Homo sapiens: one gene and its partners. The protein of the gene in region 2 interacts with the protein of the main gene of each other region in a biochemical or structural test. Each region holds a gene or a part of one and is shown on either strand. Other genes may lie near its edges. The genes, in order: CSNK1A1, MAPT and UBE2W.

Evidence for each region.
Region 1: of the proteins of MAPT (region 2) and CSNK1A1, one has a biochemical effect on the other in vitro, tested with the Homo sapiens proteins (2 studies listed by BioGRID).
Region 3: the proteins of MAPT (region 2) and UBE2W are reported together in a solved structure, tested with the Homo sapiens proteins (2 studies listed by BioGRID, with this or other methods).

What each region holds. Positions count from the first base shown.
Region 1 is NC_000005.10:149,544,790-149,548,440, forward strand, and holds part of CSNK1A1 (casein kinase I isoform alpha), read right to left. Parts: intron 1,056-3,651; exon of another isoform or gene 481-1,055; intron 1-480.
Region 2 is NC_000017.11:45,981,421-45,985,071, reverse strand, and holds part of MAPT (microtubule-associated protein tau), read right to left. Parts: intron 2,207-3,651; coding exon 1,142-2,206; intron 1-1,141. UniProt on the Homo sapiens protein: Promotes microtubule assembly and stability, and might be involved in the establishment and maintenance of neuronal polarity.
Region 3 is NC_000008.11:73,823,224-73,826,874, reverse strand, and holds part of UBE2W (ubiquitin-conjugating enzyme E2 W), read left to right. Parts: intron 1-1,625; coding exon 1,626-1,728; intron 1,729-3,651. UniProt on the Homo sapiens protein: Accepts ubiquitin from the E1 complex and catalyzes its covalent attachment to other proteins.

The DNA of each region.
Region 1 (3,651 bases), on a different chromosome or scaffold from region 2:
TGAAGCTTCCAGTGAACAGTAGGCTAGTAGTAGTTAAGCTTTTGGGGAGTCAAGTTATACTTGGGGCCAGGTGCAGTGGTCCATGCCTGTAATCCCAGCACTTTGGCGGGCCGAGGTGGGTGGATCATCTGAGGTCAGGAGTTTGAGACTAGCCTGGCCATCACTGTGAAACCCCGTCTCTACTAAAAATACAAAAATTAGCTGGGTGTGGCGGCGCGCCTGTAATCCCATGAACCTGGGAGGCAGAGGTTGCAGTGAGCCAAGATCACACCATTGCACTCCAGCCTGGGTGACAGAGCAAGACTCCATCTCAAAAAAAAAAAAAAAGTTACACTTGGATTCCTGACTGTGGGGCACAGTGGGAGTGGGCTGGGGTTCAGTGCCCCTAACCCCAGCACTGTTCAAGGGTCAACTGTAATTTTAAGTGAGCTCTCACATATTAATTGACAAGGTCCAAGAATTTTCTTTCTTTTTTTTTCCCCTGCCTCAGGTTTATTTGTACTAATAGCACAGGAGGACCCCAGCCCCATAAAGACGGCAGCCCAGGGGGGTTGCATCAGTCCTTCTGTCCTCACGTTGGCAGACAGAGATACCTACTCCGAAGCCTTTGTAGGGGCCTGAGAGCCTTTGGGAGGAGCCTGAGCTGGAACTGAAGCTGGAGCTGCAGCCTGGGCCTTGGTTGATCCTTGGCCTTTGGCCCACACAGTCTGAGCCCCTTGGCAATGCGGACACAAGCACACTTCCCAAGCTTGGGGTGGACAATGTAGGCAAGTCAATCGAGTTCGCAGCTGACACCCTTTGGGATCTTGGGCTTAACCTCCTTGGGCTTTACGAGGGCCCTGCTAGCCTCAGCAAGTGCACTCATTGCCTTGGCATTGTTGGCCTGCATCTTCTTTAGGCCCTTCTTGTGCTTCTTGGCAAAGTGCATGTTCCTCAGGAACCTGGAGCCCACCATTTCTGTGCCATTTTCAGGACTGGTTGTGTGTGGTGTGGTTCGTGGACTTGGCCATGTCTGTACCTTAAGCCGCGGCTCTCCAAGTGCCTAGAACCGGAAGCTTCATTTCTTAAAATATCAAGAAAATGGATGCCATTCTCTTATCCTTGCTTTTTTTTTTTTGATACGGAGCCTCATTCTGTCGCCCAGGCTGGAGTGCAGTGGCACGATCTTGGCTCACTGCAACCTCCGCCTCCCATGTTCAAGCAATTCTCCTGCCTCAGCCTCCTGAGTAGCTGGCACTACAGGCGCACGCCACCACACCAGGCTAATTTTTTTTTTTTTTGTATTTTAGTAGAGACAGGGTTTCACCTGTCTCTACTACCCAGGCTGGTCTCCAACTCCTGGGCTCAGGCAATCTGCCCACCTCGGCCTCCCAAAGTGCTGGGATTACAGGCGTGAGCCATGGCGCCCGGCTTATCCTTGCTCTTTACTCAGGATGCTATGCTTCTTAACAATAGGTCTCTCAAATTACACAGGAAGGACCTGATTCAGCAGGTCATCTACGCAGGCCAGGTAATTTTCAGTCTCTGTTGTAAGATATACCAAAGTATCTTAAAGAAAATCCTGGCTGGGTGCGGTGGCTCATGCCTGTAATCCAAGCACTTTGAGAGGCCGAGGCGAGCAGATCACGAGGTCAAGAGATGGAGACCATCCTGGCCAAAATGGTAAAGCCCCATCTCTATTAAAAATACAAAAATTAGCTGGGCGTGGCAGCACGTGCCTGTAGTCCCAGCTACTCAGGAGGCTAAGGCAGGAGAATTGCTTGAACCCAGGAGGTGGAGGCTGCAGTGAGCCAAGACTGTACCACTGCACTCCAGCCTGGTAACAGAGTGAGACTCCATGTCAAAAAAAAAAAAAGCAAATCCTATAGGGAATTTTGTAACAGAAAACATAGGGAAGGGATTGAACAAATTTGTATATGAAGGATAAAGGCAGCAAAATCTAAATTTTTTAAATTAGTGACAATACTTCTAAAACAATAGATAACACATAACTTTTATCTAGCTAACACTAAATAGTCAACTTAATTCAATACTTTCCGAGTAAATATTTATTAAGTATGTACCATGTATAGGTGATACAGAAATAGTGGGGAACAAACTGAGGGGGATGGGAAGATGCTGCTACCCAAATAAAGAATGTTTACATAAATCTTTATCCTTTTTGCTTCAGTGGAAACAGTTTTTTTTTTACATTTCACTTTAAAACCAATGAACCACTTTTGTTTCCATGTACCTGACCCTACCACTCCTAAAGCAAATTTACCCTTTCCACACTCTCATCCAATTACTGTGTTCTCCTTTAGAGACTACACCCAGAAGCCACACTCTATTCTTGGATGCCTTACCAAACCAGTTCACCAAGCTTTCTTCCTTAGAGCCAGATCCTGAAATCCCATCTCTCAGGAAGCCTTAACTTGAAAGTCAGGTTAATCTGTTTAGCCTCACCCACAGACAGCTTATAACTACCATAACTCTCTCTGCACTCACCACCTTATAATAGGCACCTATTACTATAATTCTGCTCAGAAGTTAATTTATTCATGTGCTTATTCAGTACATTACTCATTGCCCTTATGGGTCTGTATCAGGTCTTAAATAAAAGCTACCAGATAAAAGGACATGTACTGTACTTGGGTTTAGCACTGAAAAATGACAATGCTTAATGCTTTTTGAAACTGATTTCAAATACATTAAATTTAACCTGATTTGTGAAATTTATAAAATCTCCCAACATAGATGAATCTCAAAAACATTATGTTAAGTGAAAAGTGCCAGACACAAATGACCTCATATCGTATGATTCCATTTATATGAAATTCTAGGAAAAACTATAGTAATGGAAAGCAAATCAGGGGTGAGGGGCCTTATTTTCCCACATAGTAGGTTTTTTTTTTAAAGGCAAGAATGATTTAAAAACTTCAAATCTATATCATCTCAGATTTAATCTTCACCTCATAAGATAAATTTGCAACTTTCTTCCAAATGATTTACTTGCTCATTTACAACCAATAGCACATTTTATCACTCAATTCTCCATTAAAACTGTAAATCAGCATTGGAACTTTGTTTTTTTTTTTGTTGTGTTTTTTTGTGTTTTTTTGAGATGGCGTCTCGCTCTGTCACCAGGCTGGAGTGCAGTGGCGCCATCTCAGCTTACTGCAACCTCCGACTCCCGGGTTCAAGCTATTCTCCTGCTTCAGCCTCCCGAGTAGCTGGGATTACAGGCACGTGCCACCATGCTCAGCTAATTTTTGTATTTTTAGTAGAGACGAGGTTTCACCACGTTGGCCAGGCTGGTGTTGAACTCCTGACTTAAAGTAACCTGCCTGCCTTGGCCTCCCAAAGTGCTTGGATTACAGGCGTGAGCCACCACGCCTGGCTGGAACTCTTTTTAAGGACAGTTTTATTTGAGTTGTTTCCATGTAAAGACTATGCAACCCAGTCCTTAATTCAAGACATGAAAAATACAAACTGGAATAGAAAAAGGGGCTAACAGGCTGGGCCCGGTGGCTCACGCCTATAATCCCAGCACTTTGGGAGGCTGAGGCAGGTGGATCACCTGAGGTCAGGAGGTGGAGACCAGCCTGGCCAACACGGCAAAACCTCAGCTCTACTAAAAATACAAAAATTAGCCAGGCGTAGTAGTGCAGC
Region 2 (3,651 bases):
TTGGCCTCCCAAAGTGCTGAGATTACAGGCGTGAGCCATCGCCCCCAGCCTCTGTCTTAACTTTTAAACACAGGCTTCTTTATAGCATTTCAAAGTTTTCCCTAAAAGTAAAATCTAATAAAAATTTAACAGATGCTTGCAACTGTGAGCTTCAGTAACATCCATTTCTGGGCTCTGCAAATAACTGTGAAATGCTAAGGGTCCCAAATTTATGAACAAGCTCGCCTTGTGGCTCTGAGGTCTCCTGTGGGACACCAACTCTCCTCTCCCTGATACTTGGGACTCTCCTCCCACCAATCCCTCCCTGCAGGGCTGCTGTGGTCGTGCTCCTGAGGGCTCAAGGTGGGCCCTGCTCAACCCCCTCCAATGCCAGCATGAGGATCCCCTTGTCCTCTGCAGAGGGAGGTGGTGGCATGTGGACCAGGGAGATCTTGTGTCTGCTCCTTGTCTTCCTGCCACAAGGCAGAGTGGGTGGGGGCAGGGCACTGGGCCAAAGGCACAGCATGAGCTCTGGGCCACCTCTGGATGCTGTGTGTGTCACCTGCTGTGTGTGCCCTGCACATCTCTGTGTTAGGCGTCCACACTCCAGCACCTCCTGGGAGGCGTTGTGGGATGCAGGACAGGCGTGTCTTTCAGAGACAACCTACCTGGATCCCAAACCTGGCTCTGTCACTTACTACTCATTGGCCTTCGGCAAGTTACTGTACTTCTCTGAGCCTCCGTTTCCTCATCTGCAAAGTGGGGCTGCTTATGCCTACATGGGAGGGTTGGAGAGTTCTAGACACCATGAGGGCACCCGTCATCCTGTCGGTGGAAGGCACCCACCAAACCTCCTGTGGGCTGATGGGCCGTTGTGGACAAATCAAGTGGCCAGAGAGTCAAACAAGGTGGGTAGCACGGAGCGGGGGTGCTGGTGACATGCAGAGTGGCGGGCAAGCGTGAGGGGCGCGTGCGGCCACAGCCTGAGCACGGGAGGAGGCCGAGGGAGTGGAGCAGCTGCACCCAGGTGTCGATTTAGTGGCGTCCTAGGAACGTCAGAAGCAGCAGGAGTCGGGAGGCCTGGAAGCTCAGTGGCAGTGCCCGCAGCCTGGGAGGCCTGGGAGGTCCCCAGGGAAGGAGCGAAGAAGCTCAAGACACAGACCTTTGAGTTGAGGGACCCGGCTGACGGGCTTCCCCCGCGGAGCAGCAGCAGGCTGCTTTTCAGAGGGCTCTGGAAGGTCAGCCTCTTTTGTGTCCTCTCCCAAAGAGGGGCCCCGGGCCTCTGGCCCCTCTCCAGGGGCCCCTGGAAATGCAGCCCTTCCCAAATGCTCCTCCGAGTGCGCCTGCTCCTTCTGCACGTTGGGTGTGATTTCCACGTGAAACGTGAACTCCAGGGGGGCATCCTGCCCTTTGGCCCGCCCTACACTGGGCCCGTCGGGCTCTGAGGCTGGGATCTCTGTGGAAACTTTGGAGAGGAAATCCACAGGGAGGGGGATGGCACCCTCCGCTGGGAAGCCTGGGATGCTGGTGGCTTCTCTGGCGGCTGTCTGGGGAGGCCGCCCATCTTGGGCTGGGGAGGCCTTGGAGGGAGGGGAGTCTTGGGGGGAGGACTCATCGACGTCGCGGTCTTCATCCACCTCCTCCTTGCTCCCCGGCCTCTCTTTGCCCCCTGCCCCCTTCAGCGGCGGCCCCTCCTGGTGCAGGTCTCCTAGAAGCTGGTGCTTGAGCAGCTCAGGGGCGTGGCGGCCGCCCTCTGTGTCCTCAGGTCCTGTCCCCGAAGGTTGGCGTGTGGCCTCTCTGGGGCCCTCAGGCAGGAGGGGAGCCCCAGGCATGCCGGACATGAGCTGGTGGCTCAGACCTGGGGGGCCTGGCTCTCGGAGGAAGCCTTCCTGGACCACCTTACCACTTTCAGGCTCTGTGTGGAGATACGCAGTGGTGGCGGGCTTCGGAAAGGCCGGACCCTTCTCGGCCCAGTCCCCGCCTTTTTGTCCCCACTCCAGGGAGGGCTCCTGAGGGCCTCCTGTTGGAGGAGGCGCTGGGCAAACGGGACGGTGCTGAGGAAGGCTCGCGGTCAGCGGGACGGGAGCTTCTGGCTCTTTCTCCCCGAGGCACGGCCCAGAGACCCCAGAGGCCTCTCCGCAGGGTCCAGGCTGGACGTGGGCGCTAATCTCATTGGCCAGGGGCCTTTCAGGCGCCTTCCTCTGCCGGCCCGGAACTCTCAACTCCTCTGGTTTGAAGAGGCAGCGATAGCAAAAGGTTAGCAAGGGCGCATTAATCGCTTAAGAGAGGGAGCATCATCCTGGACAAAATGACACTGAGAGGGCATCCCAGGCCCCCTAACAAAGAGATGGGAGCACAGCTCTGGGCTCGTCTCGTTGCCTTTGCTTGCTTGGAATGACAGCTCTCCTGGTCTAGCCGCCACCAGCTCGCTAGGTGGCTCTCCCCTCTCTGGGCCTCAGTTTCCTCATCTGTAAAGAGGGTTCTTGGACGTGGTGACCTCCGAGGGCCCTTCTGGTGTGGGTGTTATTCCTCTGCCTATGATGGGCTCTGGTTGGGCACAGAGCATGTCACACATCTGGAGCCGCCCTGGGCTTAATCTACTGGGAAAGCGGGAGGGCTACAGAAGCTTCTCCTGCTTTCTAGGGAATTTGAGCCTCCCAAAGATTCTAGCCTCTAGATGGTATCTGGTTTGGGTGTAGCGAGAATCCCCTTTCCTCTCCCTACCTCTCACTGTTCTCCTGCCCCCGCCCCCCACCCCTTTTTTTTGGTTTGAGACAGAGTCTCACTCTGTCGCCCAGGCTGGAGTACAGTGGCACGATCTCAGCTCACTGCAACCTCTGACTCCCTGGTTCAAGCGATTCTCCTGCCTCAGCCTCCCGAGTAACTGGGATTACAGGCACGTGCCACCACACCTGGCTAATTTTTGTATTTTTAGTAGAAACGGGGTTTCACCATGTTGGCCAGGATAGTCTTGATCTCCTGACCTCGTGATCTGCCCACCCCGGTCCCCAAAGTGCTGGGATTACAGGCATGAGTTTTTTTTTTCCTTTCTTTCTTTCTTTTTTTTTTTTTTTGAGACAGGGTCTCGTTCTGTCACCCAGGCTAGAGTGCAGTGGTGCAATCACAGCTCATTGCAACTTTAACTCCAGGGCTCAAACAACCCTCCCATCTCACCCTCCCAAGCAGCTGGGACCACAGATGCATGCCACCACGTCTGACTAAAATGTTATTTTTCATTTTTGTGGAGACGGGGTCTCCTTATGTTGCTCAGGCTGGTCTCGAACTCCTGGGCTCAAGCAATTCTCTTGCCTCTGGGATTACAGGGATGAGCCACCATACTTGACTTCTGCTCCCCTTTTTGGTAAATGAAACCAGTGAAACTAGTGCCCACAAACCCCGCCTCAAGCCCATTCTCTGACAGATTTGGAAAATCCAAAATGTGTGATCATCAAGAATGGAGTCTTTACTGAGAGACCTGCCATAAGACTCCTCGAAAAAGAAGCCCCATTCAGATCTATCCAGGTCACTGACCACAGACAAGCCCTTGGCACAGGTGAGGTAGGCCCCCGTGGGAGGAAGGGCTCTGCACGGCAGACAGTGACGGCCCTCAGGACCACTGCTGTCCCCTGGTCACACAGCTTGCTGCACACCAACCCAGCTGATCAAGGGCAC
Region 3 (3,651 bases), on a different chromosome or scaffold from region 2:
GACTGAGTCAGGAATGTGCTAGGTTTTTTACGTATGTAGGGTCATTTATCTTTCCAACAACACTATGAGGTGATTATCTTCTGTTTTATTATTGAGGTAGTTAAAACTGGAGAGATAACATAACTTGTTCACACAATGAGTTAAGATTAACTATAACTGCGACTTCAGTATAACTTCAGTTATAACTGTCTAATTTCACTATAAAATATTGTCTCTTGGGTCTGTGGTCGTATCTTTTATTACCATGTATGGTACTCAGCGTGCATTCTTAAAATGAATAGCCATGCTCTTAAGAGTCTGTATACTGTAGCTGATTTCTTTTAGAGAATAGGTACATTTATTATTTTACATAATCCAAGGTTCATAGTATGCGTGGTGATGACTAGAATCCCAACACTGTATTTTCTATCTTCCTTTTGTTTTCTTGTATTTTAAATACAAGAAAGTTTAATAACTGAAAAGTTCAAGAGAATTGCCCAGGTGTACAAGAATTATAAGTGACAGAGCTATAATTAGGAACACATTGTTAATGACTTCAATTCACTTTTGCTTCTAATGCTGCCCTGTTATCTTTGCTGTCATTATCCCTTATTCTTCCCATCTTAAAGAAAATAACAAGAATAGTATATAAACTGTAAATAACACATTTATGTTTATGATTGTTATATATGAAAACAAAGGCTTGCATAGATGGCATAGAAATGGGCTTTATTAAACAATTGAAACATAGTGAGAGATAAAGGAAAGTCACCACAAAGCCTTGCTTAATCATCAGAGTAAGTGGACTGATGTCAATTTAGCTCCCCTTGCCCTGTTAATCTTCTCTAGGATGTTGATGAAAAAAATAAGTCTGACAGCTACGGTTCTCTGTGGTCATTGTCTATACGTATTTCTCCATGGCTTCCACCAGTAATAATCAGAGGCAGTTGCTTTGTTTGATGTTATGTATAGAATACGTAATATCAGCATTGTAGAAATGGTACTTTGAAAAAATAAGGTAGTATAAATCAATTAGGAGGAGCACAGGCTTTGGTGTCAGTGCACCTTAGTTTGAGGTCTGTTTGTTTGTTTATTTTGAGACAGTCTTGCCCTGTAGCCCAGGCTGGAGTGCAGTGGCATGATCTTGGCTCACTGCAACCTCTGCCTCCCGGGTTCAAGCGATTCTCCTGCCTCAGCCTCCTGAGTAGCTGGGATTACAGGTGCACACCACCATGCCCGGCTAATTTTTGTATTTTTAGTAGAGACCGGTTTCACCATGTTGGTCAGGCTGGTCTTAAACTCCTGACCTCGTGATCTGCCTGTCTTGGCCTCCCAAAGTTCTGGGATTACAGGTGTGAGCCACCACACCCGGCCTTGGGTTTTATTTAGTTTGCTTTTTTAGACCTGGCTCTGTCTTTTGCTAGCTGTCTGACCTTGATCTGGTTATTTCACCGCTGAGTGTCAGAGAAGGGGATAGGTCATGAGAATTAACAGTAAGAGAGTTATTGGGAGGCTGGCATGTGCTGTTACACATAACCAACTCTTGTCCTAGTGCTTAGTGTATAGGAAGTACTTGGTGTCCTCTTTTCTCCTCCTTACCCCAGTCTCTATTATCTTAAGTTTTTAATTTGCCTTTTCTATTCTAGGTGGATTGTAGACATGGAAGGTGCACCAGGTACCTTATATGAAGGGGAAAAATTTCAACTTCTATTTAAATTTAGTAGTCGATATCCTTTTGACTCTCCTCAGGTAATTGCCTTGCTTTAAATTTTTTTTTTTGTATTTTTAGATAGCTAAATGCCAGAGATGTTTGACTCAGTAAAAACATATAAATCAGTTATACGTATGTAGATGGATTTGTTATTTCATTATCTTATTTGTCATATAATCAAGATATGAACATTACACTTTATTGGGATTAGGGCTTTACTGCATTTTGCTTCTAAAATTGTTTCATTTGTTGCTTATCCATAAATGCTAACAGAAAAGGGAATAGAAATCTAACCAGGCCTCTAGGCCAGGGGTCCCCAACCCCCATGCTGTGGACTAGTACTGGTCCATGGCCTGTTAGGAGTCGGGCCACACAGGAGGTGAGCAGCATTACTGCCTGAGCTCTGCCTCCTGTCAGATCAGCGATGGCATTAGATTCTCATAGGAGTACGAGCCTTATTGTGAACTGCACATGTGAGGGATCTAGATAGCACGCTCTTTATGAGAATCTAATGCCTGATGATCTGAGATGGAACAGTTCCATCCCAAAACCATCATCCAATCCCCAACCCCATCCATGGAAAAATTGTCTTCCATCACACCGGTCCCTTGTGTCAAAAAGATTGGGGACCACTGCTCTAGGCCATCGGAGAAGTTGACATTTTGGAATAACTGGAGGCACTTCTCCTAGGTCAGATGGTAGAATCACATGGTGAAGAGAAAAGTTCTCTGTTGGAAGGAGTACTATGATTTTGCATTGACATGCTGTCCTTGCAGCCTTTTAGTACAGGAAGGGCAGAGTACATCATCAGATGTTAAATATCTAAACATCAGCACAAAGTCTGATTATTATAATTTGATGCCCAGTGAGTTTAGTTAATAGCTTAATACTTAGACAAGGGATAATGGTGGTAGAGAAATGTTTTTTGAGAGCTATTTAACTATAGTAAATGATTAATCAGGTTAGAGAAAGGAAGACTCTAGGATGACTTCCAGGTTTCTGGCTTGGTAAGATAAGTAAATGAGTTACTATAATTACTTATTCTTCAGAGAATTATAACAAAGCACTTCATTTTTAAAATTTGAGGCTTGTGAGATCCGTTGGCTAAAATGGTAAGACATGATGCCAGCTCTCTCTAGTATTGCTAGCAAATGAGCTATTCTGGAAAATACAACCAAATACCTGAAATATTTCCCAGATACTGAAAATTTTGCTTGTTGGGTGCTGAAATGTACTATTTGGAGGAAAATCATATTTCATTGTCACTTTAAACAATATACCAAACACAGCTTAATCTTTTCTTAGTTATGTAAGAGAAGAGATAAAGTCAGTTATTGTATCATGCTATAAGTAAAGAGATAATTGTTTTAAAGCATAGATTTAAATGGATACTGACTCCTTAAGTTCTAAAATTTTCATATGAGCAGAAAACTACCAAGACTTTTAGGACTTATTTTTATCATTTTCATAAAAGTTAAAGTGAAAGGGTATGTGCTATTGTGACCTCTAGATGTCTACAATAAGCATTTGTAGACTATAATAAAAAGAACAAACATCTTCTCTCCAGAAGATTGTCATCACTTTTGTTGCTTTCTGGCTGGCCAGCATCATTTCTGACTGTAAATGTGTGGAGACAACAGGATCTCAGTCTGTTTTCATCATCAGCCTATTTGTCTACCTTCAACTAAGTTCAATGATGGTATGGGAAGGAAGAATATTTCACACCAATTCAAAAGCTTTTGACTAGGGAGATATTGGGGGAAGGCTTACTCTGGGAGCTTACAGATTTTTCACCAGAGGAAAATAATATTTCTGTAAGCATGAAACCAAGTCAAAAATGTGTTCTCTAAACTCTTTCCTTAATATTTAATTCTAAATCAAATATCAAACTTAAACATTATGTTGAATTTCTTCTTTAATATTTCTGTAAGTTACAGCATTTGTAATAAATTCTCCCTATT